Linked DNA regions of Homo sapiens: region 2 is linked to region 1. The links come from fine-mapping of genetic effects on plasma protein levels. Region 1 holds a variant in brackets. A gene starts in the other region. All regions are shown on their reverse strands.

The links. PIP is the chance, under the fine-mapping model, that this variant and not a neighbour inherited with it causes the effect. The UK Biobank Pharma Proteomics Project read protein levels with antibody pairs (Olink). The fine-mapping took linkage between variants from a reference panel, not from the people measured, so its PIPs are less certain.
Region 2: MB starts here. The variant in region 1 is fine-mapped to the plasma level of the MB protein (UK Biobank, PIP 0.94).

The regions. Positions count from the first base shown.
Region 1 is chr17:67,049,454-67,065,116 of GRCh38, reverse strand. CACNG1 (calcium voltage-gated channel auxiliary subunit gamma 1) reads right to left here. Exons shown (of 4, transcript NM_000727.4): 2 at 11,047-11,121; 3 at 9,877-10,014; 4 at 8,320-9,072. The coding sequence ends at 8,846. Among named protein-coding and RNA genes, the nearest start is that of CACNG1, 13 kb to the right of the region's middle. RefSeq lists a silencer at 1-185 and enhancers at 11,066-11,910, 13,115-13,194, 13,265-13,394. The variant C/T (reference allele first, on the strand shown) is at 8,929.
Region 2 is chr22:35,610,169-35,625,831 of GRCh38, reverse strand. It overlaps MB (myoglobin), which reads left to right and starts at 8,503. Exons shown (of 3, transcript NM_005368.3): 1 at 8,503-8,669; 2 at 14,726-14,948. The coding sequence starts at 8,575. RefSeq lists enhancers at 2,296-2,590, 3,249-3,764 and a silencer at 13,743-13,792.

The DNA of each region.
Region 1 (15,663 bases):
TGGCCAGGCTGGTCTTAAACTCCTGACCTCAGGTGATCCGCCCACTTCCGCCTCCCAAAGTGCTGGGATTACAGGCGTGAGCCACTGCAGCTGGTCTAAAATGTTTCTTATCAGACCTAAAAGGGTGCCTGGCTCTTAGTTGATTATCTCCTGGATCTGGAAAGAAAGGAAGGAAAACAAAGGGGGAAATGGATTCTCTATAGAATGTGGATTTTTCCCACAAGAGACTTTGCAGGGTAATTTCGAGGTATGGCAAGGAAATACATTTTGGGGTTAAATATTTTTTTCCTTGTCTCATAATGTTATGCCAGTCAGATTGAAAAGTAAGTCACAATATATAGGGTCAAATAGAACCCATCCGATGAGGATTATGATTTGTAGGGCATGACTCCTTAGACCCCTTAGGTAGGAATTTGAGCAAGATAGAAAAATAGAGCTTAGTCCTCATCTCAAATCTCATAGGACTTTACTTTTTATTTTTTATTTTTATTTTAATTTTTGAGATGGACTTTCGCTCTTGTTGCCCAGGCTGGACTACAGTGGCACCATCTTGGCTCACTGCAACCTCTGCCTGCTGGGTTCAAGCGATTCTCCTGCCTCAGCCTCCCGAGTAGCTGACAGGCACCCGCCATCACGCCTGGCTAACTTTTTGTATTTTTAGTAGAGATGGGGTTTCAGCATGTTGGCCAGGCTGGTCTCGAACTCCTGACCTCAGGTGATCCACCCGCCTTGGCCTTCCAAAGTGCTGGGATTACAGGAGTGAGCCACCTCACGTAACCCAGCACTTTACTTTAAAATCATCTGCCATTGAACTCTGAGTTCCTGAAGGACAGGACTGTAATTTATTCCTTGTTTTATTCTAGTTTAGCACAGTGCCTAGCCTGGCACGCAATGTTGATCATCAGCATGGTAGACAGAACAGTGGTCCTCCCCAAACGTCCCCATCCGAATCCTCAGAACCTCTGCGTGGATGTCCACTTCCTAACCTGTGAGACCTGCTTCTTTATATGGAAAAAGGGACTTGGCAGGTGTGCTTAAGTGAAGGATTTGTGTTTTTTTTTTTTTTGAGACTGAGTCTTGCTCTGTCGCCCAGGCTGGAGTGCAGTGGCATGATTTTGGCTCACTGCGAGCTCCGCCTCCCGGGTTCACGCCATTCTCCTGCCTCAGCCTCCCGAGTAGCTGGGACTACAGGCGCCCGCCACCACGCCTGGCTAATTTTTTTGTATTTTTAGTAGAGATGGGGTTTCACCGTGTTGGCCAGGATGGTCTCGATCTCCTGACCTCGTGATCCACCCGCCTCAGCCTCCCAAAGTGCTGGGATTACAGGTGTGAGCCACCGCGCCCGGCCTAAGTGAAGGATTTGAGGTGAAGAGATTCTCCTGGATCTTCTGAGCAGGCCCAGTGTAGTAATCACAGGGGCCCTTCTAAGAGGTAGGCAGGAGAATCAAAGTAAAGAGACAGAGACGCCATGATGGAAGCAGAGATTGGAGTGACGCAGCCACAAACCAAGGAGCGCCATCTAACTCCAGAAACAGGAAAAGCAAGGCGATCAATTCTCACCTGAAGCTTCCAGAAGGAACTATCCCCGCAGACACCTTGATTTTTGCCTCATAAGACTCATTTCAGACTTCTGATCTCCAGAACTAGCAGAATAAGTTTGTGTTATTTTAAGCCACTACATTTCCGTTATTTGCTACAGCATCCATGGAAAGTGAATATACTCAGTAAGCATGTGTTTGTTTAAGTGAAGGAGGCCCTGTGTGGGAGGGATGTCAGCTGGCTTGGAATGTTTGAGAGACAGTGTTCTCCAGAGCAGTCAGTGCTCACCAGTGACAGCGAGAGGGTCAGAGAGCCCTTAGGCAGTGACAGAAAGAACGAAAATGAGGAGATGGATTTGGGAGTCATTTCAGAAGCAGAATCTGCGAGACTTGGCTTAGTGAGCACGATAGGAGTCCAAGAAATGACAGCAACTTCTGGCTTGGGGGCATAGGTACATAGGGTGCCCATCAAAGTGAGGGAACAAAAAAGGCAGAGTCGGTTTGGTTAAGAAAAGTCATGGGTTGGGGCCAGGCTCAGTGGCTCATGCCTATAATCCTAGCACTTTGGGAGGCGGAGGTGGGTGGATCACCTGAGGTCAGGAGTTCGAGACCAGCCTGGCCAACATGCTGAAACCCCATCTCTACTTAAAAAAAAAAAAAAAGTCAGCCAGGCATGGTGGCGGGCACCTGTAATCCTAGCTACTTGGGAGGCTGAGGCAGGAGAATCACGAACCCAGGAGGCAGAGGTTGCAATGAGCTGAGACGGAGCCATTGCACTCCAGCCTGAGCAACATGAGTGAAACTGCCTCAAAAAAAAGAAAAAAAAAAAAAGCCATGGGTTAGGTTTGGACTTAGGCACGTGGGGTGGCCTGGAACCTCCGGAGAACAAAGTTTCTGCAGAAAGCAAGGCAACACACCGGGTCTGATACCTGAATGAGAGATTGGCAGGGGCTTATGATGGTCACAGGTAACCGATGTCCTGGAGATGAATGGGATTTCCTAGAAATTGTGATGTGAGATGAGACCTGGCAGAAAACACCAAAGTTTAAAGGGCAGGTGGTAGAAGCACAAACATTGGACAACGGAAATATTCGGGGGAAAATTTGGAGAATTTTTTGAAGGAAGCAGAGGTCAAAAGTACAAGGCTGGGCACGGTGGCTCACACCTATAATCCCAGCACTTTGGGAGGCCGAGGTGGATCACTTGAGGTCAGGAGTTCCAGACCAGCCTGGCTAACATAGTGAAACCCCGTCTCTACAAAAAGTACAAAAACTAGCCGGGTGTGGTGGTGCGTGCCTGTAGTCACAGCTACTTGGGAGGCTGAGGCAGAATTGCTTGAGCCCAGGAGGCGGAGATTGCAATGAGCCGAGATTGCGCCATTGCACTCCAGCCTGGGCGACAGAACAAGACTCTGTCTCTAATAATAATAATAATAATAATAATAATAATAATAATAATGTAGCAGTAAGGTAGGGCTAGCTGTGTATGAAAGTCATATCCCCTAAATGACGAAAATTTCCAAAAAGTCCAGGCTTTCACATTTAGGCAAAAATTCTTGTCAGAAGCAAAGCCAAAAGAATAGAAAGTATCGCTGCTTGTAATGGCAATGACCTTAATTAACTTTCTCCAATGTGCAGGATCAATGCCTTGTGTGGGGATTAATTTATGGCCTCAGTGGTTGCAATTGAGTGAGACTGAGAAATGAAGGCTTGGGGAAGCCAGGGGCAGCTGCATCCCAGCCTGAATACCAATCATTGGTTTAATAGATATGTTCCACATCATAGGTTTATTAATACCTTGTCTCCACTTCTAATCATTTCTGAAAGTGGGCAGGGTATAAATTAGAAATGGATTTGTAAATAAAATATTTGGTCAAAATGGAACAAGTCACACTGGCAGGGGAAATATTGCGATAGGCTGTGATTAAAATCCGTCTTTACCGGCACAGCCAGAAAAAAAAAATAGAGGTACACAGAGATCCTTGAAATTTTCAGTTTAAGGAGGAACTAAGCACCAAGCCACTGGAGCAGGTCCTACCGTGTGCTGGCCAGAGAGAGAGGGAGCCATCTCTTGGTTCTCCCAGGAACCTGGGCAGAGGCCAAGTGAGGATTGGTAAGGGCCCTCATCAGACAGGTGGGAAAACAGCAGCCTTGGTTCTAATTTAGGTTGGTGCAAACATAATTGCAGTTTTTGCCATTACTTTTTTTTTTTTTTTTTGAGATGGAGTCTTGCTCCATCACCCAGGCTGGAGTGCAGTGGCAGGATCTTGGCCCACTGCAACCTCCGCCTCACAGGTTCCAGCGAGTCTCCTGCCTCAGCCTCTGAAGTAGTTGGGATTACAGGTGCCCACCACCTCGCCTGGCTGTTTTTTTTTTTTTTTTTGTATTTTTAGTAGAGACAGGATTTCACCATGTTGGCCAGGCTGGTCTTGAACTCCAGACCGCAAGTGATCCACCCGCCTCTGCCTCCCAAAGTGCTGGGATTACAGGCATGAGCCACCACATCTGCCCAGTTTTTGCCATTCCTCTCAATGGCAAAAACTGCAATTACGTTTGCACCTACTTAATAGTTTTGATATGGTGTTAATTGTGGAGATTTTGCATTAATTTTAATTTTTTAAAAATGTCCCAGTCAGTGCATCCAAAACAACCAAAAGCAGGGCCTGAAGCAGAGCATGAACCCGTGTTGATAGCAGCAGTAAATCACAAGAGCCAAGAGTTGGAAACAACCCAGCGTCCATCAGTGGATGAGTGGATAAACAAAATATGGGAATACGTAGAGTGGGATATTGCTGAGCCTGAAAAAGGAAGGGAGTTCTGATACCTGGTACCGTGCAAATGAACCTTAAAGGCATTAGCAGTCGAGGGAAATGAGCCCGTCACAAAAGGACCAATACTCCATGATTCCGCTGATCCCGAGGTACCTAGAGGAGTCAAACTCCCAGAGACAGAAAGTGGAAGAGTGGCTGTGGGAAGGAGAGGACGCAGAGTTAGTGCTTGTGAGTTTCAGTTTGGGATGACGAAGAGTTCTGGAGATGCACGGTGTTCAGAGTTGCACAACAATGCGAGTGTATTTAACGTGATTGAACTCTACACGAAAATGTGATTAAGATGGTAATTTTACGTTATGTGTATTTTACCACAGTTCTTAAAAAATCACACTTAAGTCTGGATCTTGATGAACTAGTTGCTGGTCCTGCCTCTGCTGCCTTCTTTGCCTCACGGAAGATGATGGATGTAAAAACGCTGAGAAAGCCTGGGCAACATGGCGAAACCCTGTCTCTAAAAAAAAATTGCAGAAATTAGCCGGGTGTGGTGGCACGTGCCTGTGGTCCCAGCCACTCGGGAGGCTGAGACAGGAGGATCGCTTGAGCCCAGGAGGTCAAGGCTGCAGTGAGCTGAAGTCGCACCACTGCACTCCAGCCTGGGCAGCAAGTAAGACTCTGTCTCAATAATAATAATAATAAAATTAATAAAAAAACAAAAAACGCTGAGAAATTGCAAGTGTGACAGGACATCAAGGTGTGCTGTGGGTCAAAGTCACATAGTTCCAGGAGGCGAGGTGGTCGGATCACCCGAGGTCAGGAGTTCGAGACCAGCCTGGCCAACATGGCGAAACCCCGTCTCTACTAAAAGTACAAAAATTAGCCAGGTGTGGTGGTGGGCGCCTGTAGTCCCAGCTACTCAGGAGGCTGAGGCAGAAGAATCGCTTGAATCTGGGAGGCGGAGGTTGCAGTGAGCTGAGATCATGCCACTGCACTCCAGCCTGGGCAACAGAGCAAGACTCTGTCTCAAAAAAAAAAAACAAAAAAACACACAGTTCCCACAGCAAGGAATGAGAAGCCAGTAGCTTCTGAGGCCAACCAAGGCTTCAGGGCAGATGGCACTGTTTGTTCTGTGGTTGGGCTCTGGGTGGCCTTCAGAGCAGGGCCTGCATGGACCCTGAAGTGAGGCCTTCAGTCCCTGGCAAAGCCAACCATTTTCCCCTGTGGACATCCTTCTGGCAAGCAGCATTTGGCGGGTGGGGAGTAAGACGTTTTCCCTCATTGGTTTGGTCAACTTTATTTTGCTTTGCTGCGTTGCCTCTTTCTGGGGCAGATGCCAGGATGTGTGGCTCTCTGGCGGCCAGCCTCCAACCCTTTGGTTTGTATCGCAGTTCTGGCTGTGCTGAAGTATATCTTGGAAGAGTTAAAAGCCTGGGAAGCCGAATGTATTCTGTTTGGTGGATATTCCATTCAGATGTGTTTTGGGGGGACCGACCCATAGGCATCCATGGGGAAGTAGAAAATGCATGCCAAGGCCCCGGGCATGGTGGCTCACGCCTGTAATCCCAGCACTCTGGGAGGCTGAGGCAGGTGGATCACCTGAGGTCAGGAGTTCGAGACCATCCTGGCCAACATGGTGAAACCCCGTCTCTACCAAAAATAAATTAGCTGGGTGTGGTGGCCGGCACTTGTAATCCCAGCTACTCGGGAGGCTAAGGCAGGAGCATTGCTTGAACCCGGGAGGCGGAGGTTGCAGTGAGCTGAGATCACACCACTGCACTCCAGCCTGGGTGACAGAGCAAGACACCATCTAAAGAAAAAAAAAAAAAAAGAAAAAAGAAAAGAAAAGAAAAAATGCATGCCAGTCTGATTCTGCTAAAAGTAAAAATAGTAATAAAAGAATAATATTGGAGCCAGGCATGGTGGCTCACACCTGTAATCCCAGCTACTCCAGAGACTGAGGCAGGAGGACATCTGGAGCCCAGAAGTTTGAGGCCAGCCTGGGCAGCATAGCAAGACTCCGATCTGTTAAAAAAAAAAAAAAAAAAAGGCTGGGTGTGGTGGCTCATGCCCGTAATCCCAGCAATTTGGGAGGCCAAGGCTAGCGGATCGCTTGAGCCCAGGAGTTAGAGACCAGCCTGGGCAACATATCAAAACCCTGTCTCAACAAAAAACAAAAAAAAATTAGCTGGGTGTGGTCTGCGCACGCTTGCAGTCCCTACTACTTGGGAGGCTGAGGTAGGAGGATCACTTGAGCCCAGGAACTCGAGGCTATAGTGAGCTGTGATTGTGCCACTGTACTCCAGCCTGGGCACTGTACTCCAACGTGAGACCCTGTCTCAAAAAAGAAAAAAAGAAAAACACCAATAATATCAACCTCCAAAATGGTTATCAATGGGATGAAGTTATCGCTCTTCCTTCTTACTCATAAATCATGGCCCCAGCTCCCTGGCTGGCCAGGACAGTCATCTTCTGATTCTCCTTTACCTGGAGCAAGTTTGTTTCCTGGCTGGATCTTTGCGTCTTTGAGTGAGTCTCCTCTGACACCCCTCCTAGCCCAGCCCACACCCCCGAGATACCGCAGGCGAACTGAAATAATGAACTTCCCCTCAGCTTTTAGATGGGACCAGTAAGAGGTTGATATGGGGGCTGATGGTTGTAGTTTTCCTCCAGAACAGGCGTAATCACACATTTTTCATACAGGGTCAGATAGTAAATATTTTCAGCATTGCGGGATGGAAGATCTCTGTTGAAACTACTCAATGGTGACGAAAGCAGCCATAGAATGGGCGTGGCTTGGTGTTAATCTAACTTTATTTACAGACATTGAGATGTGAATTTCTTATCATTTTCATGTGTCATGAGATATTCTTCTTCTTTTTATCTGTAAATTATTTTATTTTTATTTTTTATAGAGATGGAGTCTTGCTGTGTTGCCCAGGGTGGTCTCAAACTCCTGGCCTCAAACAATCTTCTTGCCTCAGCCTTCCAAATTACTGAAATTACAGGTGTGAGCCGTGATGCCCAGTTCCTTGATTGTTTTGGGGGTTTTTTTGTTTTGTTTTGTTTTTTGAGATGGAGTCTCACTCTGTCGCCCAGGCTGGAGTGCAATGGCGTGATCTCGGCTCATTGCAACCTCTGCCTCCCGGGTTCAAGCAGTTCTCCTGCCTCAGCCTGCCGAGTAGCTGGGATTACAGGCACATGCCACCATGCCCGGCTAATTTTTTGTGTTTTTAATAGAGATGGGGTTTCATCATCTTGCCCAGGCTAGTCTTGAACTCCTGACCTTGTGATCCACCTATGTTGGCCTCCCAAAGTGTTGGGATTACAGGCGTGAGCCACCACGCTTGGCCTTTTTTAAAAAAAAAAAATTTTATTTATTTTTTTAACAATTTAAAACTGTAAAAACTACCTTTTGCTTGTGGGCCATACAGCAAGAGGGGGCAGGCCAGGTGTGGCCTATGGGCCATAGTTTGCCAAACCCTGCCCTAGAAGCGTGAACTCCAGTGGGTTCTCCGGGGTGCAAGGCAAGGATCCCATCTGCCGATCATGTCTGAACTCCACTTTGGAAGCCTGGGCAAGTACTGCGGGGTTTTGGAAGGCAGAAGAGTGCAAATCATGGCTCTCCATGTGGCCCTAAGTGTCTAACTGCTAAGCCCTGCTTCCTGATGTTCTTCACAAGAAAAATCCAACATCAGAAATCAGACACTGGCTGGCTGCTTTAGCGCTGTGTTGGCACCAGGTGCGTTGCATGCCAGGCTCTAGAAATAACCCCTCCTATTTTTAACACCCTTGCTTCATCAGAGGGTTTCTAGTTTCTCCCGAAAACAATCTCAGGGCCTAGAGATACGAGTTGGAATTCAGAGCCTCTAAGCCACGTGCGTTGCCCTCTTGTCCCCACAAAAGACCTCAACATACCCGGGTGACCGGCCTTTCCTTCTCATTCGGCGTCAGGGGAGCCCCTGATGTGACTGGGAATCCGAGCGATTTCTATGCAAGGCTCCAGGAAAGCATGAGTTTTCTGAGAGCTTTTTATTTCAAGCCACAGTCAGATTCTACCCAGTTAAAAATGCTTCCCAGGGCTCCTGGAAGCCAAGGAGGGGACGCTGGGCTCACCAGAGAGGGTGTGTTTTATCACCGAGAAAGAGACAGGCTGGCTATTTACACGGAACACCCAGCTGGCAAACACAGGTTGTCCCTGCAATGTTCATAAAGGACAACTGGAGGCAGCTTATCAGAGGCTGGTACAGTGGGGACACCTCTGAGCTCCAGGGGAAGTTGGGCCCCTGCAAACACCTGTCCACCTGCTGGCTCTGCCTCCCCCAACTGTGGCCAGGTTAGGACTCACGTCTTGCTCTATTCCCAGGGGAGCCTGCGGCAGCCCAGAGGAACTCAGAGAGAGGAAGCAGCCTGCGACTGTTGCAGGGGGGCAGATGGGAGCAGGGTGGGGCTAAAATTGCTCCCGCCTCCTCTCTGGAAGGTTCCAGGCCAAGACCCCGCTTCCTGGGGAAGAAGCCTGAGGGTCGCTAGGGCCGCAGGAGGGTTAGTGCTCGGGCTCAGCATCCATGCAGGACTCCCATGGGTTCCGGGGCATTCGAGGCAGGGAGAACAGCAGGAGGGCGAGAC[C/T]GCCGAGAAAGAGGAGGATGAAGGCGGCACAGGCGCAGGCAAAGGACCAGGAGTAATAGTACTCGATCCAGACGGTGTCCTCACTGTCAATCATGCGCTTCACCGACTGCCGCATGACCTCCACCGAGACGAGGATGCAGAGACCTGGGGGCAGAGCCAGGCATGCTCAGGGACCGAGGGGCGTCTGCCGTAGCCACCAGCCCCATCCCAGCCTGTGTGCATGGAGGAGGCGGTGACCTTGCCTTGGGGGAAAAGCTGCCTCAAGGCAGGTTCTAGATGGGAACCTGCAGAAGGATCCATTTGTCCACCCACCACCCTATTCCTGCATCCCTCAGAAGGGCAACCATGTGGCCAGGTGTGGTGGCTCACACCTGTAATCCCAGCACTTTGGGAGGCTGAGGCAGGAGGATCGCTTGAGGCCAGGAGTTTGAGACCAGCCTGGCAACATAGTGATGAGCCCTCCGTCTCTACAAAAAATTAAAATACAATGAAAAATTAGCCAGGTGTGGTGGTGCACGTCTGTAGTCCCAGCTACTAGGAGGCTGGGGCGGGAGGAACCCTTGAACCCAGGAGTTCGAGGCTGCAGTGAGCTGTGATTGTGCCACTGCACTCCAGCCTGGATGACAGAGCGAGACCCTCTTCCTCATCCCCCAAGAAAAAGAAAGAAAGGTGACCACGTTTCTTTCCTTCTTTTGTTAATCATTCTCTGGGCAGTTTCTTTGGGGCCTTGAGGGTTGAGTCGTGGAGAGGAATGGACAAACCGCCAAGCTCTGTCTCCCTCCAACCCACCTGGAGTCGCTGATGGCCTGGCCAGGTTTGCCCCTGGATGGGGATGGAGCCTGGGAAATGCCCCTCACCCAAATCTCGCGGTGGGCATGAGGGTGGAGCGGAGAATCCCCCGCGACATGGTCCCCCGGCCCCGGCGCTCAGGCAGATCCCCCAGTCTACCTGCAAAGGCATAGAACATGGACGCGGGTCGCAGCAGATAGTCCCTCTTCTTCCCGAGGGACAGGAGGACACAGAGGCTGCCCAGGATGATGAAGCCAAGGCTGAAGATGGCGATGGCGGCTGCCGAGATGCTGTACTCTGCAAACACAAGGGACACCCAGCATGCGGCCTCAGCATGGGAGCTCTTGTCATGGCTCGTTAGGGACCACACCATGCACCACAGTGTGTGTGTCAGTGTCTGTGTGTGTCATTGTGTGTGTGTCAAGTGTGTGTCTCTGTGTCTGTCTTGTGTGTGTCATTGTATGTGTGTATCTGTGTGTGTGTCAGTGTCTGTGTGTGTCATTGTGTGTCATGCATATGTGTCAGTGTGTGTCTCTGTGTCTGTCATTGTACGTGTGTGTCAGTGTGTGTCTCTGTGTCTGTGTCATTGTACGTGTGTGTCAGTGTGTGTCTGTGTGTGTCACTGTGTGTCATTTTGTGTGTCATCATGCATGTGTATCAGTGTGTGTCTGTGTCACTGTGTGTCATTTTGTGTGTCATCATGCGTGTGTGTCAGTGTCTCTGTGCGTCTGTGTCTTGTGTGTGTCGTGTGTGTGTATCTGTGTTGTGTGTGTCTGTGTGTGTCAGTGTGTGTCTGTGTGTCTGCCCACTCACCCTGTGTGCAGCTGTCTGGGCGCAGGCAGGCACGGGTCTGTACTCCCGACAATGGGTGTGCGTCTGAGCTCTGCGGATCCTGAAAAGCTCCCAGAGCCCACCGCACCCTCCTGGTACTCAGGGAGGGATTTCTAGGCCAGGGAGGGACTCAGACTGTCCCTGCAGACTCTAACTATCACATGCCACCAAGAGCCACCACGGGGCTTCTGAGCATTTGTTCCACATCCACACCTCCCGTCACAACAGCTGCCCTTGTGTAGGGGCCTACCAGGAGGTGCTGCTTCTGCAAACGCTCCCTGGCCCCGAGGTGTGGAAGCTCCGGGCCCTGGAGATGGAAGGCGGCTGCCTGGGGCCTCCGGAGCGGGGAGCTGACAAGGCTGTTGTTCAAATGCACCACAGGCTTCTTCTCATCAGGCGTGAGGAAGTCAGTGCTTTTGCCAATGACTTTCTGGCCCAGTGGTGCACAACACAGAAGTCCCCTCTTGTCACCCCAGACCCCTTTCCACCCAGGCTCACCCTTCTGAGTGGTGAATTCGAAGATCTCCGAGCTCTCGCCGGGGTTAAAATGCCTGAAGTAGGAACAGTTCTTCTCTGCAAAGGAGGAGACAGACTGTGAGTTGAGGGGAGCAACCCGTAGCAAGGACAGAGGCCTGGCAGAGAGCGTGGTGTCATTCTGCTCGGCATGCAGGGGGCTCTGGCAGCCTCTCTTCTCCCCAGATCCTTAATCTGGGCTGAAACATCTGTCTTTGACCCTTAGAACAACATCTCAGTGGGATAATGAGGTTGCCTGCAGGGCTGGGAGGTCTTCAGGGAGCTGAGGCTGGATGAGTCTGCAGGGCAGACGGCCTGTGGGTTCTGCACCCCATTAGGCAGACAGGGTAACCGAGGCCCAGGCTCAAGCCATTTTTCAGGGTGTGCAGGGTGCACAATCAACAAAGAACCAAACAGCAGTCTCTGTTGGGGCCGATTCTGCCCCCCCAGGGGACACTTGGCGATGCCTGGGGTTATGGTGGTGGTGAGAGGGGTACACCTGGCACCCAGCCGGTAGAGGCCACAGACGTTGCTGAACATCCCAAGACACACAGGACAGGTCCTCCCAACATGGAATGATCCAGGCCAAAATATCAAGAGTGTCAAGGTTGAGAAACCCTGGATCAACCCCAAACCTGGGACTGTGTTTCTCATCAGAATCCAGGCACACCCTGGTTCATTGGTGGGACCTGGGAAACAGTGTTTTTCAAAAGCTTTCTGGGAGAGCCTGATGTGCAGCCAGGATGGGAACCCTGCTCCAGGCCCCTTAAAATGCCCTGCAAAGGGCTTTTTCCGAGTGGCCATTGGGATGGCCTGGATGCAGATGGAACCCCTACGAGGGCTGAATGTGACCATCATGTGGTTTCACTGGGTCCCTGGTCTTTGCGAGACAGCCCAGATGAGACCTGCCCCCACAAAGCCGCTTGGCCCACCTGATAATTGTCATAAAAGCTATGGAAAGTCTGTGGGCAGTAGGAACGCAAATCTGAATTTGATGAGGGAGAGGGGAGGGGCTCAGCACAAGGAAATTCATGCTGATTTAAAATATAATTTCATTTCCATTTTTCTCTTTCAGTCTCTCTCTCATAGCTAGGTATACTATAAAATCAAAGCACAGGCCGGGCGTGGTGGCTCACACCTGTAATCCCAGCACTTTAGAAGGCTGAGGCAGGAGAATTGCTTCAACCCAGGAGGCAGAGGTTGCAGTGAGCTGAGGTCGTGTCACTGCACTCCAGCCTGGGTGACAGAGTGGGACTCTGTCTCAAAAAAAAAAAAAGCACAGTCTTATTTCTTGCTAAATACGGTTTATCTTCTTTGCTCTTGATTTAGGAAGTGGATGAATGGGTTATTTTATATTATGTTTCCTTCCAAAACTAAATTAGTTTGCTTTTTATTTGTGGAGGCCCTTCATTGATTTCTTTTCCTGTGGATCAGTGACCCTTAAATAGAAAAACATCTCTTTCTCTAGTTGAGATGGTGTCTAGTTTGCCAATTCATTTCTTCACTTCCAGGCTTCATTTAGATGCTCATAAGGCGGTTGATGCCTAGTTCTTTCTGGAAATGTACCTGCAGTGATACCAAGGCTTTTCTTTGGGATGAAGACTTTCTTTAACCGGACCTAAATCATTCTTCTTGCACCTTAAGCCTGTGGTCTCATACCATGCCCCTCCTTCCCCCCAGAGCCAGGGCTGCTGCCTCTCCTGAGGTTGAGGAAGCAAATGACCCCTGGAGATGGGATCTGGTTTAGCAGCAGTACCCATTCCTGGCATAAACAGCCTTCTCTGTGTGCTTCTATATTTAAATCACTTTCCTTTTGAACCGCGTTACCTGGGGTGTCTGACTGCTGGTGGTGATGTCAGAATTGGTGCTCTGCTATTCTCTCTGGGCATCCGGTGCTATTTTAAAGCATAATGCAGATCTCTTCTATTTGTTAGATTATTGGCTGTAGATCTCTCGAATCACTGCTTCAAAATGGCCCATGCTATGTCATAAGTCTCCATGTGTCTCCCTCTGGACAAAGAAACATTTCTGTTTCTGTTTCATTCTTGAAGGGCCAATTTCAGTTGTCAGAATTGACTGAATTCAAGTGTATTTCATGGTCAGCTGCCTCCCTGACTGCTCAAAAGCCATAAGTTAAAATCCTTCCCAGCGGAGGGCCCTGAGATGAGGGCCATGGAGTGCCTTGCTGGGGGCACAGCTGTTTGCACCTGGTGGGTTGCTGAGGTGACTCTCACACAGGTAGCATTTGGCTCACCAAATCCCCACCAGATAAACGCCAGGCTCCGCCTGGCTGCTGGCTGCTTGGATAGAAATGATCTTAACTCAGACACAGGGGTAGGCTACGTGTCTGCAGGAGCCAGGTTGTGAGCTTCTGGGGGGATGCTTTTCTTTTGGTGGTCCAGGTACAGTGTTCCTCCTCCCTCTTCTCCATTAAGTGTCCTCAAATGGAGGGAGGGGGCCTCCAGTGGGTAGGATTCCTTCTCAGGGTAACAGGAAGCCTCAGCTTCACTCTTACATGGCTGAACTGGGGGCCTGAGGACTGATGGGCTGACCTCTCCCCTTTCTTGGGCTTAGCATGTGAAAAAGACCGGTGTCTCCTGCCCTGAACCTGAGAGAAACATCCACTCCTGGGCTATGTGGCTGCCCATTGGAGACCATAAACCCTTTCATGGTCTCTAATGGCCCCTGTAGGGGTGGGGGCACGTCAGACCCAGGCCTCATTTAGGACAAATCAGGCCAGGCATCTGCCCATGTTACTCAAGAGGGTGCAGGGTCCTGTTCAGATGGACAGACCCTACTATGAGCCCCTTCCCTCCCTGCCCTGTTCCTGGGTCTAGGTGGATATTATTTGGGAAACTGAGCATCCAGGGCAACGTAAAGAGGAAGGACATCCGAGGTGGACCCATCTTAGTCATGGGTCAAGAGGAGAGGGACCGTGACGGTCCTGTGCAGACTCTCAGTCTTCCTGCCTCTGCCTCTGGGATGCCCCTCTCTGCCCCGCTGCCCTGGCTTCCATCACACTTACACAAAGCTCAGGGATTGCAGCTTTGCTTCCGACTAAGTCAGCAAAGATTCCAATGCCAGGATGATGATCTGGGGTGTTAGGAACTCTGAGGTCGTGCCATTCTCCTTTGTCTCTGCAGATGGCTTATGCTGATTTTAATCTCCTTATTTCTGTAAGACTCAGCGGTTTAAAAATATTAAATGGGTTATTTATTAAAAATATGGTGAACTCAGCTCTCAGACTTGACTGGGGGATGGAATAGTCTGGCTAACCCAGTGTTCTGGTTAAGGGCATCAGTAACTGTGCAGAACCATGTGTAGTGTGCCAGTTTCAAAGAATTAGAGCAGAAGCCACATTTAGCTCCAAGCTGAACTTGAGTTAATAGGGATCTTTCTTTGATAGTTGGAACAGCTGGCAGGATTAGTGGATGCCTTGGGTTATCACTGAGAATGTATCAGTGTGCCAAGTGACTGTCCATGGAGACTTTCATATATTCAAAGATACTTTGTGGATTTGTCCAAAACCAAAGAAACTGGTACTTTAGGGGTGCAAGGAAGCCTCTAACTTGCATTGATGTCAGTGTTGTTTTTAGCCTTTTGGTAAAAGAAGTTCTATCAGCTCCCAACAGTGGTTTCTCTGGGCTGTGTCTCCTTCCACATCTCTGATTGAAGAATTTTATAAAATGGGCTGGAAATCTCCAAGACCTGACCCTAGAGCTTCAGAGCACTGCTCTTCCATGGGAGAAGCCTGGCTTTGGCCTAGGCCTCTGGCATGGACTTCTGTGGGTGGTGAAGTGAGCCCATGAAATTCCTGGGGTCAGTAGTATCATGCTCTTTTATACAATCCCAGTTCCCGCACTGAGAGAAGATGGACCAGTAGGGAAAATGGGGCACTAGGCAAAGTGGGCCCTGGGGCAACCTGCCTCCTTGCCCTAAAGAGGCAGAGTCTGAAAGAAGCAGCACTTCACCCAGCCCAAGGGCAGGGGATGGCCTCTTTGCGGGTTCATTTGGACTTTCAGAACACATAGTCTCTCCTTTGGGAGAGGCTCCTACTCTCATTCTGGAGGCATTGGAATTGGTCTTGGATGTTGATCTTGTACATGGAAGTCCTTCTAAGACTGTTTGGAGTCTAAGACTGTCTAATTTGGAAAAATTAGACAACTCTTGCCCACTGAGCCTCCAACATTTTAAGACTAAGTGGGACCTTGAGAAGTCTGCTCCACTGCACCAGCTTCTGGTCCAGCTGCCCTCAAACTATGCCATGTCAAAAGCTGGACTCCTTGTGTTCACTTGGGTCAGAGCTTTTAGGAGCTGTGTTTTCATGCACAATAGAGGGTGTGAGAAGGAACTGGAGGGAAAGGAGGCTCTGGATTCAAGACTTGAGTGGAGAACCTCTATTTGTTAGCTGGTTAGCCTGGGGAAGGCTATGCTCAGCCTCCCTGTTCCTACCTGTAGAATGAGACCCACCTGTAGAATGAGAACCACCTGTAGAATAGGAACCACCTGTAGAATGAGAACCACCTGTAGAATGAGACCCACCTGTAGAATAAGAACCACCTGTAGAATAAGAACCCACTCACTGGGTTGTTGTAAAGTAGT
Region 2 (15,663 bases), not on the chromosome of region 1:
ATGGCTGGAGCTCAAGCAGCCATCTTGGATGAGGAGGTGAAGGCCATATGTGTAACATGACAGAGCACTAAGGTAGATTGAAGCTGGGTCCCCGAGACTGTGGTGTGCCATGTCAGCTCTGAATCCCCTGCCTCTAGACTTCTATATGAAAGAGAAATTAATACTCTCTTGCTGAAGCCATGTTATTTTGAGTTTTCTGTTACCAACAACCAAACCTAGTCCTAACACACCAACTTCTATGTCCTTGAATGTTTTGATCCTTGTACTTGGAATGTCTTTTCCTCACTTTGCTCCTAACAAACTCCCATTGATCCTTCAAAACCTTGCTCGGACATCACCTTCTCAGTTACATGTTAATTCCTTGGTGGAATTAATGTTTCCCTACTCCATGATTTCTCTCTACCTTATATCACAGTGTGCAATTATTGAGCACTTACTATGTATCAGGCACCATGCTGGGTGCTCCCTCTTTTAATCCTTACAATGATATTTAAGATAGGTTATTCTTTTCAAAATCTCCACTTTATAGATAACAAAAGCATAGACCTTGGAAAGTTATGATACTTTTCATGGATCACAAAAGTAGTGCATGGTAGGGCCGAGTCCAGGAGTCTCATTCCAAAGCCTTTAGCCCTATGCTGAATGACCTCGATTATTGCCCTTATCAGAAAGTACTGACAACATTAGGTCACACATCCCTCCCTCCTACCACCTCTCAATGCTCGGAGGCCAGCCGGTGTCACCTTAGTCCCCCCAGAGCCCAGCACGGAGCCTGGCACACACCAGGTGAGCATGAGTGCTGTGGAACGTGACTATCCGTTCTGAGCCCCCAAGTCCTTGTCTTGGTCCTTGTGCTTGGAATATCCCTTCCTCACTTTGCTCCTAACAAGCTCCTATTGATCCTTCAAAACGCTGCTCAGGCATCACCTGAGCCTGGCACATAAAGTTCTTCCCAGTAGGTGTCACCTCCCACAGCCCCACTTGCCCCACACGTCTCTGGCAGGCTTTTGCAGCACTGTTTGGTACCTCTGCTTAGAACACTCTGCAGAACGCTCCCTCATACGTTCACATCCAGGCCAGCCATCACCTCTGAACAAACTCCTATTGATCCCTCAAAGGCCTTCACCTCCCAGGCCTAGGCACTGCCTTCTCACCCTTCCAAAGCCTTTGCTGAAATGTCTGCTGCGTTCCAGATCCCACTGAGGTATCTCCTCCACTGGACTTTGAGTCCCTTGAGAGCAAGGACCATGGATACCTTATATCACCGTGAGCAACTATTGAGCACTTACTGTTGTTAAAAAAGTTTAACCTCTAGCCGCCTCCTTACATATTTTAAGTTGGGCCTAAAAGTTTTTCTGTACATCATGAACTATAACAAGTGGAGGTATAGACAGACTATAGCCTACACTGTGCCAATCACCGCATTTTGGCCAATCAAATGCAGCCAACTGTTCGAACCATGTTCAGATAAACCAGATGCCAACCTGTAACCAATCCAGCTGTTTCTGTACCTCATTTCTGTTTTCTGTATGTCACTTTCCTTTTTCTGTCCATAAATCTTCCACTATTTAGCTGTGGAGTCTCCAGACCTACTCTGGCTCGGGAGGCTGCCCTGCTCGCAAATCATTCACTGCTCTGTTAAACTCCTTTACATTTAATTTGGCTGAAGTTTTTCTTTTATCACTATGTATCCACCACATTCAGTGCTCCCTTTTTCTTAATTTTATTTATTTATTTATTTATTTATTTATTTATTTATTTATTTAATTTATTTTTAGAGACAGGGTCTCACTCTGTCACCCAAGCTGGAGTGCAGTGGTGTGATCTCGGCTCGCTGCAACTTCTGCCTTCTGGGTTCAAGCGATTCTCCAGCCTCAGCCTCCTGAGTAGCTGAGACTACAGGAGTGCACCACCATGCCTGGCTAATTTTTGTATTTTTAGTAGAGACAGGGTTTCACCATGTTGGCCAGGCTGGCCTTGAACTCCTGACCTCAAGTGATCCTCCCTCCTCAGCCTCCCAAAGTGCTGGGATTACAGGCGTGAGCCACTGCGCCTGGCCAGTGCTCCCTTTTTCAGTCCTCATAGTGACATTTGAGGTAGGTTATTCTTTTCAAAATTTCCATTTTACAGATTTAAAAAAAAGCGCCCTTGGAAAGTTATGCCACTTTTCCTGGATCACAATATTAAAAGATCACAATTCATCTTCTAATAATTTGGCAAGCCATCCATGGTCTTCTAAGCAAGGCGCCATGAATATAACGAATATAGAGACAGAAAAAGACCCCTCCCCACTGGCTGGGTTGAGGGACTGGAGAGCCCAGATGGAAGGGCAGAGGTGCAGGCTTTTTTCCTTGTTGCCACTAGATGGCAGTAGGGCACCCGTTGTCAGCCCTGGGGCAAGGTCACCGACTGTCTTTGCCTTTGCCTCCAGCAAGCCAAAACCCTGGGCAGACTCAATCCAAAAATAAACAATCAAAGAGCATGTTGGCCTGGTCCTTTGCTAGGTACTGTAGAGCAGGTGAGAGAGTGAGGGGGAAGGACTCCAAATTAGACCAGTTCTTAGCCATGAAGCAGAGACTCTGAAGCCAGACTACCTGGGTCCCAATCTTGGGCTTGGTATTTCCTCGCTGTGTGACTCTGGGTAAGTTACTTAACTTCTCTGTGCCTCAGTTCTCTCAAGTGTAAAGTGACGCTTGTAAAAGTGTCTCCTGCAAAAGAAAGGGCTGCTGGGAGGAGGGGTGTCCCTGGTGTGCACTAAGTACAATATGAGTTTGTGGCTTTTATATTCCTGCCTCTGAGGCACTCACAGGGTAGAAATGGGGAGAAGCCAGTCCAGACAGGTGCACCCCAAAGCAAGAGAGATGAGAAGGCTGCACCCATGCTGGAGCCAGAGTGGGGAAGAGGGCACATCTGCTGGGAATGGGTAGAGCGGGGTGGGAGGAGTCCTGGCAGGGGAGCCGTTCCTATGCAATGGGCCTTGAAGGAAGGGGAGGATGGGTGGATGTGGGGTTAGGTGACTGTGGAGGCGGGGCTGGTCTCTGTCCAGGTGACAGGTGGATGGTGGAGCTGGAGGAGCCACTCGGAGCCTCCAAGGCTGGGGAGGGTGGAGGGGGGAGGCAGGTCGGTGTCCCAGGCCACACCTGTTGACTAAGGGATTAGGATGTTGTGTCCCTGCCAGCCCTCCTCCAATAAGCCCCTCTGGGCCTGCAGGGAGAGGAGGAGCCTTGCCATGTAAACTGTATTTTTAGTTCCCTGTGCCTCTCCCCGGCTGCTATAAGACACCTCTCCCCACCCCCAGCCCTGGCCGCTTGGCTGGAGGCTCTGCGAGGACAGCTGGGGAGAAGGGGAGCTGTGGTCAGTATGATGGATGCTGAGGGGCTGGAGAGGAGCAGCCCTGGTGGGTGGGTTCCTGGGAGTCTGGAGCAAGCTTGGGGGTTCTGCTGCCCCATCAAGGGCCTTGAGCAGGTCCTGCAACTCCCAGGCCTCAGCCCTGCTCTGAGCCCTGGCCTGGCGCTGGTCCAGGAGGGTAGACTCTGCCAGGGAGGCACAAGCTAAGCTGGGGGTGGGGTGGGAGGGCCTGCTGGCAGGAGGGAGGCACTGCCCAGACTGGCCTCCAAAGGCTGGTTCCCAGAAGGAGGAGGAAGAGAGTAGTGAAGATCGTGGGGAGTCCTGGCTTTGAGGAGCCAGAGTTCTCCTTCTTGCCACATCTTTGATCTCCCTTGGTGGTGTCTTAAGCCCAGATTTACCAAAGGGAATTGTCAGCTGTCCAAGGGCTAGCAAATTCCTAGGTCACCTAGATTGGATTTTCTGACCATAAAAACTGTGGGCCAGGTGCACAGCTGCCTGAGGGGCTCAAACCTGTGCAGGTGGGTGCTGGAATCCCCTTTGCTATAGCGTTCTCTTTGTGTGCATGTGACCAGAGGTGAGAGTGGCTGGAGACCGAAGATGGCAGAGCCCGTCTTTCTCCACCAGACTGAGGCCCCCGACTTGCCTTGCCTGGGGAGGGTGCTCAGTGGAAGTCCTGGGATGTTCAGTCTGGACAAGAAAAGTCTTGGGTGAGCCTGCTCCTTCTCTTGTGAGGCAGACTCAGCTGGGCCTCTATATCCCCAAGGAGCAGGCGGAGCTGCCGCAAGGAAGTGCACGTGACATGGAGGCATCTTTTGGTTCGACATAAAAAAGGATTTTTAAAGCTTTAGGTAGTGAGCTCACCACTCCCAGGAGTATTCAAGCAGATGCCAGATGATGATCTGTAGGGAAAACTATGTTTAGTGGGAAATTGGACAAAATACCGTTGAAGGCCTCTTTTAGTCACAAGATACTATGGCCCTATAATTCTAGATTTCTCTGCTTCTAGCTCTCTATAAGTCTGGAATCTAGAACCCAAGTTTCTCCGGTGCTGAAAAGTTGAAGACTTTGACACTCTAGAATTTTAATTCTGGGATCTCAAGATTCCAGAATTGGGAGCCTTGAGGATGATTCTACAAGTCTCAGTTTTGGATTCAAAGGATCCTGTGATATGAAAGGGAAAAAGAGGAGGTCTGACTTGGTGGGATCCAGTTTTGCCCCACTGGGTATCAGACTAATGTGCCCTGCATTCGTGCGTGTGTGTGCGTGTGTGTAGCATGAGCGTGTAAGGCTGTAGAAAGTTTTGCACACAAAGGCAGCCTGGCTTTCCTATCATGTGTCTGCAGCTTCTCTGCCCTGGCCATAATGAAGGCTGTCACAGGGATAATAATAGCCCCCAAACAGAGCTGGTGACTCCAGGTAGCCATAGCAACTGTGAGGTAACGCTGCTCTGTTGTAGAGATGTGTGAGTACAAACAGATGTCGGTGCCTTCCCATTAGCTTAAATGGTAAAACTTAAAAGGTCCATCAACTTCAAAGCTACAGGTTTCCATGAGCATGCCAGTTAATGGGGGCGCTTGCCAAGCGGGTGATAGCTTCATATTAAACATTTCAGCATCAGTAATGGGTTGATGAGATTTTAAATGCTCAGGCCATCCCCAGACAACTCAGGAGGCCAGAGACGGGAGAAGAGCTGGGATTCGGGTAGTAATCAGCCCTGCCCTGCCCCGCACCCTCAGGGGTGTTCTGACACTCTCGGGAGGGCACAGGCCAGAGAGCATTTGAAAACCGCACATTGCGTCTCAATCTCCAGGAGTCTCAGATCTGCCTCTTGGCCTTCCCCAGCGCACCAGGCAGGGGGCCCCAGGTCAGATGTGGCACAGCTCAATGCCATCTCCTTCTTTCTGCCCTCCTCTCTCACACCCTGGACTCACCTCCAGCGAGTGACCAGCAGTAAGGGTCAAACTGCTGAGAGTCTGAGACCGGGGCAGACCCTCTCAGAGTTGTCTTTCCTTCTGAGGCTGGGCCTGGCACAGACTGGGGCCTCAGTAATGGGCTTTCAAATGAATGAATGAACAAAGGAACAAACAGATGACTGACTGACTGAATGAATGAATGAGATCCCCTTTGGCATCCCCATGGCTTCTTTTTTTCTTTTTGAGATGGAGGCTCGCTCTGTTGCCAGGCTGGAGTACAGCGATCTCGGCTCACTGCAACCTCTGCCTCCCGGGTTCAAGTGATTCTCCTGCCTCAGCCTCCCAAGTAGCTGGGACTACAGGTTCGTGCCACCATGCCCAGCTAATTTTTGTATTTTTAGTAGAGACAGGGCTTGAACATGTTAGCCAGGATAGTCTCGATCTCTTGACCTTGTGATCCACCCACCTCAGCCTCCCAAATTGCTGGGATTACAGGCGTGAGCCACCACGCCCGGCCCCCCATGGCATTTTAGCTACTTATTTTGTTACTGCTTCTTCCACTGCTAAAGAGATGGGCCTTTGGAGGTCGGCTGGCCTAGCATTTGGGGTTGACTTCTGGAATGGTCACTAGGGAAGGGGCGCCAGAGGTGCAGCCGGTGCCTCTGACCCTTTTGGTCGCTAGGAGTCAGCCGACTCAGTACACAGGACTCACTGAATGGAGACACAAGGCTCCTCCAGGGAGTGGCGGCTCATGGCAATCCTAGAATGGTCACCAGCCAGGCTTTAGAGACCCACACAGAGGGCGTTCTGACCCAAAGTTGCACTGGGGAACTCCAAGTTTGGGGATTCTTTGAATTTAACTCTTTTTCTAGCTACATTTCCTATTATTTGTCCAATTCTTACCAAACATCTCTGTTCACATTCTGAAGCTGGGATCTGACTGGCAGAGCTAGTAGATGCTGACTATTCAGATGGAGCCCTGACATTGGCTTTCTCAGCTTGGCTGTGACTGGCAGCAGGTTTGCGGGAGAACTGTGTGTCCCAGAACATGACTGGCTACACCTGCACCTCAGCAAGATTGGGGCAGGGCAGTTATCTTCAAAAAGCTGTGTAGGTGGGGCAGTCATTACTGACAAATCCAGTGCAGACCCAGGATGGCCCAAACACTGGCTTATCCTTTCTGAATCTCATCTCCCACAGCTGTAAAGCGGGGTGGTGCTCGCTACCTCACAGAGGTGTTGTAAAGATTAGATGTAATCTTGCCAAGCAGCCACTTTGTAAACTGTATAGTCTTATGCAGATGGAAGGAAGGGCCTGTGCCTACCTTGATCATAGCACTAAACAAACTGTACTGTATTTTCATTCCTCTTAGTTATCTCCCTAAAAAGACTCTGAGTTCCTTGAACACAGGAAGGTGTTTTATTTGATTTTGTTATCCTCAGCATGTAGCAGTGTCTGACACACAGTAGGTGCTCTATCACTGTGAGAGGGATGGATGGATGGGTGGAGTTACAGATGGATAGAAGGATAGATGGAGGGATGGGTGGATGATGGATGGATAGATGGATGGAGGGGGGATGATGAATGGAGGGATAATGAGTGGATGAATGAGGGAATGGGTGGATGGATGGATGGAGGGATGGAGGAACAGATAGATAGATGGAGGGATGGGTGGGTGATGGATGGATAGATGGATGGAGGGAGGGATGATGAATGGAGGGATAATGAATGGATGAATGAGGGGATGGGTGGATGGATGAATGGAGGGATGATGGGTGGATGAATGAATTGAGGGATGGATGGATGAACACATGGATGGATGGATAGATGGATAGATGGAGGAACTGGTGGATTTTGGATGGATGGGTGGATGGATAGATGAATGAATGCCTGGATAGACAAAGAGATGATGGATAGATGAATAGATGAATTAAGGGATGTCGGATAGATGGAGGGATTGATAGATGTTGGATGGATGGGTGGTGGATGGATAGATGAGTGAATGCATGGATAGACAAAGAGATGATGGATGGATGAATTAAGGGATGACAGATGGATGGATGGATGAGTAACTGGATGGACAAGTGGATAAATGGATAGATGGTTGAATACCTGAATGGATTGAAGGAGGATGCATGGATGTAAGATAAGGCTAATCATCCTCCACTCTCTTTCTTTGCAAAACCATCCACCCATTTACTCAATAAACATTTATTCAGTTCAAACTTGGCACAAAGCACCATGTGAGGCCCAAGAGATACGTGGGTTAATAAAACAGAGCTCCTGCCCTCCTGAAAACTGCAAAGAAAGGGGCGTGGCTTCCTGAGTTCAAATCCCAACTCTGCCAGCGACTAGTTGTACATCAGTGATGTTTCCCTACTTTCTCTCAATTAAATAGGGATAATGTCAGTACCTATCACATTGGGAGGTCTTGCGGGGATTAAATGAGTTACCAAATGCCAAGTGTTTGGGACAGGGCCTGGCACCCAGCAAAGTCTCTTGTGAGTGCTGGCTGCTATTATCCTAATGGAGAAGATGGCATGAAAACCAGGAAATAGGATGCCCTTTGGGAAGCAATGCAACAGGAACTTACACAAAGAAAGGAAAGGAGGAAGCAATTAGTGGTGTCTCAAAGGAGTATGTCAAGAAAAACTTTTCAGAGGGAAACCTTTGAGCAGGGTCATGAAAACAGGAGTTCTCTAAGAGATTGTGGACTTGCCTGGGACCACCTGGCTATAAGCACAAAACCATCCGGTTCCTTTCTGTCACTTCTGGCTGGGTGAGGGGTCTCTGGCAAAGGGGCAGAAGGTGCGTGAGAGGTTGCGAATGGCCAGGACTGTCCTGGGGCCAGCCGGGGCACCTGGTGGCCAAGCTTAGAAACATGACAGGTCCTCTTGGGAGGGCTGACCGCAGGGAGCGTTGGGTTTCAGGCTGCTGGCGTCGGCTTCTGTGGTGCCCTTTCTGTCGGCTATGAGAGTCCAGACAGTGCCCAACCTCCTCCCCTTCTTTCCACACGCACAACCACCCCACCCCCTGTGGCCTGAGCTGTCCTGCCTCGCCACAATGGCACCTGCCCTAAAATAGCTTCCCATGTGAGGGCTAGAGAAAGGAAAAGATTAGACCCTCCCTGGATGAGAGAGAGAAAGTGAAGGAGGGCAGGGGAGGGGGACAGCGAGCCATTGAGCGATCTTTGTCAAGCATCCCAGAAGGTATAAAAACGCCCTTGGGACCAGGCAGCCTCAAACCCCAGCTGTTGGGGCCAGGACACCCAGTGAGCCCATACTTGCTCTTTTTGTCTTCTTCAGACTGCGCCATGGGGCTCAGCGACGGGGAATGGCAGTTGGTGCTGAACGTCTGGGGGAAGGTGGAGGCTGACATCCCAGGCCATGGGCAGGAAGTCCTCATCAGGTAAAAGGAAGAGATTCCATTGCCCCTGCCACCCACACCCTAAGATCAAGGGTGTTCAGCTGCAAGGTGGAAAGTTTGCACGTGGGGTAGGTCAGTTGGCTGCATTAGTTAAGGGTGTTAGAACGGTCACTTGCTTTTTCTTTGCTTTTAAGTGTCAGGGATTGGACTCAGGAGAGGGAAAGGAGCCATTTCAGGCTGATGTCAGCAGCTGGAGGAAGCATGAGAATCAAACCTAGGATGCTCAGAGTCCACCAGGAAGAATTTTAGAATTATAGACAGTCAGAGTTAACAAGGGTCCTGAGAGATTTTGTACAGCCACCTCTCTTACAGGATGAGGACAAAAAGGGACTGAGAAGGGGAGGACATTTCCAGAGTCACAGCTCATTAAATGCTCTTAAAGTGTCAAGGTTAAGACATGCTCTTCAAGGGGAGACAGATCTGGTTCTAGACTTGGCTCTGCCACTGAGCCACTGGGTGACCTTTGGGAAAGTACTCAACCTCTCGGAGCCTCAATTTCCTCTCCTGTACAGTGAGGGGATATCCTAATATCTATATCCTAGAGGAGATGTGAGAATTAAATAAAATAATGCATGCAAGAGGCCTGGCATGGTTCCTGGCATATACTGAGTCCTAGAAATGTTAGTAGCTATTACTGATGAAGCCCAGGCTAGGGACCTTTCAAAGCATTGCAATTAGAGAACAGAAGATAGAGGCTCATTAGTGACCTTCGATGTTGAGTATGTCTCTAGTTTGAGAGGTCTGAATGATGTGGTCTGCAAGTATATCCTGCCTTCTACCACAAGGGATTCCAGAATACACCAAAGAAAACAAAATTCTGAGGTTTGTAAATAGAGGGTGGCTGTGGTTTGTACATAGAAGCTCATCTCCTCGTTGCCTTCTATCCCAAAGGTGATACACTCTTCTCTTGGCCCCTTCCCTCACCATTCTGAGCTGGTTCCCTCAGAAGTCTAATAGGTTAAGAATCAACGTTTCTGCCAACGGGAGGAAGGAAGTGGGCGCCGGGGTTGCCACAAGTGAATGGATTGTCTTTGGCACTTTAATTTGCAGATTAATTTCTCCTTATTTGTGAGCCAGAGCCAATTTTCCTCTTCCACTCCGTCGTCCTTTGGGTCTCCCTTGGGCTTTACCCATTTCCAGCTTCCGTCTACCTCGGGAGCATGGCTGGTCCTGGAAGCTCCGTTATCTAAAATTTGAGCCGTTGGTGATCCGTGCTAGAAACACTTGAGGAAGAAGAGTTGAGTTTTCTGTTGACTGTAATGGCATCGTAGTGTGTTTATGTCTTTCTTCTCCTGTCCCTGTCATCTGGCTGCAACAGGCCCTGTTGGATTGCACAAAGTGCTCCCCCGACCAACACACACACACAAATTGACATCAACTCCTGGGCCACAGATATGCCATGTGACCTTGGACAAGTCTCTCCACCTCTGGGCCTTATTTCTCTGCTGGTTGAGCGAAGGGATTGTCTTCCATGGTCTCCGAGATCCCGTCCCACGCTCATGCCCTAGAATTCTCTGAGTCCTTGATGCACTTTTGCCTTTGGCGAGGAGGCAGGACAGTCAGGCGTGGAGGTAGGAGACCAGAGTTTGCAGAGCAGAGGTCTTTCCAAGGTGATTTGGGAGCTGCCAGACCTAAGGCAGTGACTTGTACGTCTTGAAAGAGACTCAGGGTGTTGCATCATCAGGGAGGATCACGGAGGTTTGCCGGGGGCCGGGAGCCAGGGATAAGACATAATGCCTAGGGTTGCTGGTCCCTGAAAGGTCCCAGAGGCCTGGTGCCCTGTCACGTCTTAGGTTGTGGGACATGCAGAGACTGTGCCAGCTGGTTCTGCCCTCTCAGTATTTGGGGTACAGGGAGGATGGCCTCCCTGGGGGCAGGGTGGAGGAGGCTCATGCCCAGGACTGCAAATGCCACCCGTGAGAGTTGGCATCTTGACTTTGTTCTAGATACTGACTCTGGATTTTCTAACTGACCTTGAAAGGTTATGTCTCCAATCTTCTGATTGTAAAAGAGGGCAAATTCCATGAAGCCCAGTCTGTAAAACACTGAGGCCTTCACTGCACGTACACAAACATAAAATTCTAGAACACAGAAGCTGGAAGGTCACTTGGAGATTCTGGCTCCAGGAGTGGGGCTTCGGAAGGGAGGGGGCTGCTGAGTGGGCTCCACACCCCTGTTTTTCCTTTCTTTACTCAAACCTTTTTTGTTTTATTTACTTTGGCTGTTTTGGGGAGCGGGGGGAACAAAGGATTTCAAGGTCATAAAATGTTTGAAAATCACCAGTGGTGGTCACTACTTCTCATTACAGGGAGGAACTGGGCCTGAGAGTCTCCACCGGTTAATGGCAGCCACAGGCAGGACCAAAAATTCCTGGGTGATGGTGATGATAATGATAATGATAATGATAATGGTAGAGATGATGAGGAGGAGAAAGACAGCAACCATTTATTCAGCACATACTGATTGCTGGGCTCTGTTTAAGTGTTTCACTCACTGAAGCCTGACAACAATCTTATGAGGTAGATATGATTATGATCACCACATTTAACAGAGAGGTTAAGTAACTTACGCCAAGTCACACAGCAAGTAAGAAAGGAGCTGGAATTCAAATTCAGGCAGCTTGGATCCAGAATCCTTGCTCCTTTTTTTTTTTTTTGAGATGGAGTCTTGCTGGGATTACAGGTGCATGCCACCATGCCTGGCTAATTTTTGTATTTTTAGTAGAGACTAGGTTTCGCCATGTTGGCCAGGCTGGTCTCGAACTCCTGACCTCAGGTGATCTGCCCGCCTTGGCCTCCCAAAGTGCTGGGATTACAAGCCAATGAGCCCGGCCCAGAATCCTTGCTCTTGACCACTATGCTATACTGCCCCATGACCTTGCCACACGCAAGACGGGCTGCCACCCACGCTCTGGTTCTTTTATTCTAGTAGAGCCAGAGGGGTGTTCATGGATCTGACAATGTGCTCCATGTTCCATGTGAGTGTCCAATTGGGCCTCAGTTCAGAGAACAGCAGGAAAATGGCCTCCCTTCTCTCTGACTTGGACTGAAGATCTGTCTGATGAACCAGGCCCACTGACAGCAGGGTTGAAGCTGGAAACACAGGCCAGCGGGGCTTTCTGAAATACTAGAGCAAACGCCCTCCGTCCATTTCCACAGGCTGAGGGGCTTTCATCTGTTCATTTTCCGGATCAGGCAAATCCAGGAGAATGGCCTTCTGTGGCTGCCTGGGGGGCTCCTAGCTGCAAGGCCTGGGCCCACAGGAGGCAGGCAGCTGTGTGGTGCCGGAATGATCTTGCGGGGAGACAAATTAGCCCGATTCTGCTCTGCTGTTTAAAGTAAATATGGGGTGGGGTGGGGTGGCTCAGGCCTATAATCCCAGCACTTTGGGAGGCAGGATCGGGGAATCGCTTGAGTCCAGGAGTTCGAGACCAGCCTGAGCCACATAGTGAGACCCCCCTTCTCTACAAAAAATAAACAAAATTAGCTGGGCGTGGTGGTGTGTGCCTGTAGTCCCAGCTACGCGGGAGGCTGAGGTAGGAGGATCACTTGGGCCCAGGAGATTGAGGCTCCAGTGAGCCAAGATCACACCACTGCACTCCAGCCTGGGCAACAGAGCAATACCGTGTCTCAAAAAAATATTAATAAAGTAAATATGAGCTCTCTCCCTGGCTGTCTGGTGTTGAGTGGAAAGAAAGGCATTGGCGGGTCTAGACCCTTTTGGTTTACATATGGATGAGCAATGATCCAGAGAGGCTAAGTGACTTCAACATCACAGAGCACATTGGCGCCAGAACTGGGACCGGAACTCAGCTTCCGTAACTGTCAGTCCCATGTTCTCTTCCCTAGATATCAGAGGGCAGGGGCAGGCCCCAAAATGTCTGAGACCCCCAGCTGCCTTGTGGCCCAAATTCTTGGCCCTGCTCTGCCTCAGACAGTCTGCTTTCAGCGTCCTGACCTCTGACCATCGCCTGTGCATGCCAGGTCTTGCATCTGTCAGGCGGGAGTTCAAGGATCATTGTCGCCAGATAATAATAGTCAGGAGCTCAGGGACCCTTGGATGAAAGGTGTCAGAGACAAGCCGTCAGTGACGCACGAGGATTTGGATAAGGTCCTGGAGCGAGGTGGCAATGTTGGGCACGGCGGCAGACCATGCCCAACATGGGGGAAGGGAGTGTATGTGGTTCAGGCTTGTGCGTGTCTCTGTGTGTGTGTGCAGGTGAGTATGGCGTGTGCTGGGATATATTTATGTGTACCTCTGTGTGAGTGTGCAGGCCCATATGTGAGTGTGCACACACATCTGTGAGAGCCTGCATGCATGTACACGTGTGAGGTGTTGATACATGTCCATGTAGGTATCAGTTTGCCTGTAAATATCTCTGTGTAACAATAACAAAGTCCGAATAGTCATCAAGAGTATAGACATGAAGCCAGACTGCCTGGGTTAAATCCCCAGCTAGTTAGTCTTTCGGTGCCTCTGTTTCTTCCTCTGCAAAATGGCGTCTACCCCATCAGGATTTTAAAATCAGTTAATATGGCTGGGCGCCTGTAATCCCAGCACTTTGGGAGGCTGAGGCAGGCGGATCACAAGGTCAGGAGATCGAGACCATCCTGCCTAACATGGAGAATTCTGAGAATTGCTCAAACCCAGGAGGTGGAGGTTGCGGTGAGCAGAGATTGCACCACTGCACTCCAGCCTGGGCAACAGAGCCAGATTCCATCTCAAAAAAGAAAAACAAAAAACAAAAAAACCATGAACTCATTTTCAGGTTGAGGAGCTCAGCATCCTGGTTGTGAAATACCCTCCTCATAAAACCCTGGGATGGAGACTACGGGGATCAGGTGCTTCCTTGTGACAACTTCTGGGCATGGTGGCTCAGGGCGCAAACTGGAGTGTGGCCACAATACATACTGTGTACTTTTACAAGGATGTCACAGAGCCTGGGTATCATAAAAGAGGAGCTTTTCAAGGAACTGAAACCATTAGACAGGAGAGAGAGCCCTGGGCAGACAGGGTTGCCCGTGCCAAACATTTCAGCTGTGGCACAAGGGAAAGGGTGGGAGTTATGAAACTGTTCCATTTTGGGTTTAGGTCTGGGCTCTGCCGCTAGCTAGCCAAGTGACCTTGGCCACTTATCTCTGTGGTCTTCCATGAGTAAAAGGCGGAAACTCACTCCTACCCAGAGGGCAGGTCTGACTCCCTTTAACCAGCACCCACCTGCTCACAGCAGGAAGGACTGAGGTCTAAAGCTGGAGGTGGGCAGGAAGGACTGAGGTCTAAAGCTGGAGGTGGGCAGGAAGGACCAAGGTCTAAAGTTGGAGGTGGGCAGGAAGGACCGAGGTCTAAAGCTGGAGGTGGCTGCTCAGAGTCCCAGCAGAGGCCTCTGGGGCACCTCACTGAGTGCCTGGCAGGAGTGGGTGCCTGTCTCAGGGCTGGGTTGAGTTGCTCCCACCAGGACCCTTCGTCATCTGCACAGTGAGGGGACTGGGAGGTTCAGAGAGTCACAGCTTGGGCTCAAAACAAGCAAGAGGTTTCTGAGTGTGAGGATTGCTCTGGAGTGGAATGGCCCTCACAGGTAGGAGTGAGCCTCCTGTAGCTAGAGGTATTTAAGCAGCTGAAGGACAATCCCTGGGCAGGAAGCTGCAGAGATGGTCGCAGCGTGGACTAGAACTGCTGTTTTGGTCACTCAGACCTCATTCCAGCCTGGCTTCTCTGGACAGCACCCCTGCAATAGTGAGCTGGTGACTTTACGCCTCAGAACCTCGGTTTCCACATCTGTAAAATGGGAATTATATGACACTCACTATGTGCCAGACACCCTGTTGGTACATAGCACACACTATCTCACTTAATCCTTCAAGTAGGGACAAGTTATCCCCATCCCTTATATGAGGAAGCTGAGGCACAGAGAGGTGAAGTGAATGGCCCAAGGTCACACAGCTGGGAAGACAGGGAGCTAAACTTGAACTCTAGTCTGGCTGCCCCCAGACCTCACACCGCACCTCCCATGCCGACTCCAGCCTTCCCTGTGCCCACAGGCTCTTTAAGGGTCACCCAGAGACTCTGGAGAAGTTTGACAAGTTCAAGCACCTGAAGTCAGAGGACGAGATGAAGGCGTCTGAGGACTTAAAGAAGCATGGTGCCACCGTGCTCACCGCCCTGGGTGGCATCCTTAAGAAGAAGGGGCATCATGAGGCAGAGATTAAGCCCCTGGCACAGTCGCATGCCACCAAGCACAAGATCCCCGTGAAGTACCTGGAGGTAGGAGCAGAGCCTGGGCAGGTGGGAGGATGCGGGGAAGGCCTCGGGTGGGGCAATGGGATCTGGGTTCGAGTCCAAGCTCAGCCACTAACTTGTGGGATGACCTATGCCACTCTTCTCTGTGCCCCAGGTTTCTCATTTGTAAAGGGGACTGCCACCCACTTTGCCTTCCTCCTGGGATTGTTGAGAATGAACACACTTAGCATTTTTAATTTAGTATGCCAAATTCACATCTTATTACCAAAGAGGAAAGGGAGAGGGGATATTGGGTGCAAAATTTGCATCCTCTCCATGGGTAGGTACCATTATCATATCCACTTGATAGATGGGGAAACTGAGGCTCACAGAGGTTAAGCAGCTTGTCCACGGTCACAGGAGGTGGATAATGGCAGAGCCAAGATTCAAACGCAGGTCTCTATTACTACAGAACCCCAGCCCCTAACTGCTGTGCCACTGGGAGTCTGGTACATGCAGGACTTATGTGGCAGGAGCTCAGCAAGTGGGGCTCAATTTGGGGTGGGGGTGACCAGCAGGTTGGCTCTATTGGTTCCAGCATCTTCACAGATGAAGAGACAGGACCTCGGTTTCCAGCACAAGCAATTGGTTTGGACCTCCTGAGATGGGTTGGAAAGTTGGGTGGATCAGGGTTGGGGGCAGGAGCCTGGGCTTCAGGTTGTGTGTCTATAACTGGTGGGAGGAGGCGATTTGGGGAGAG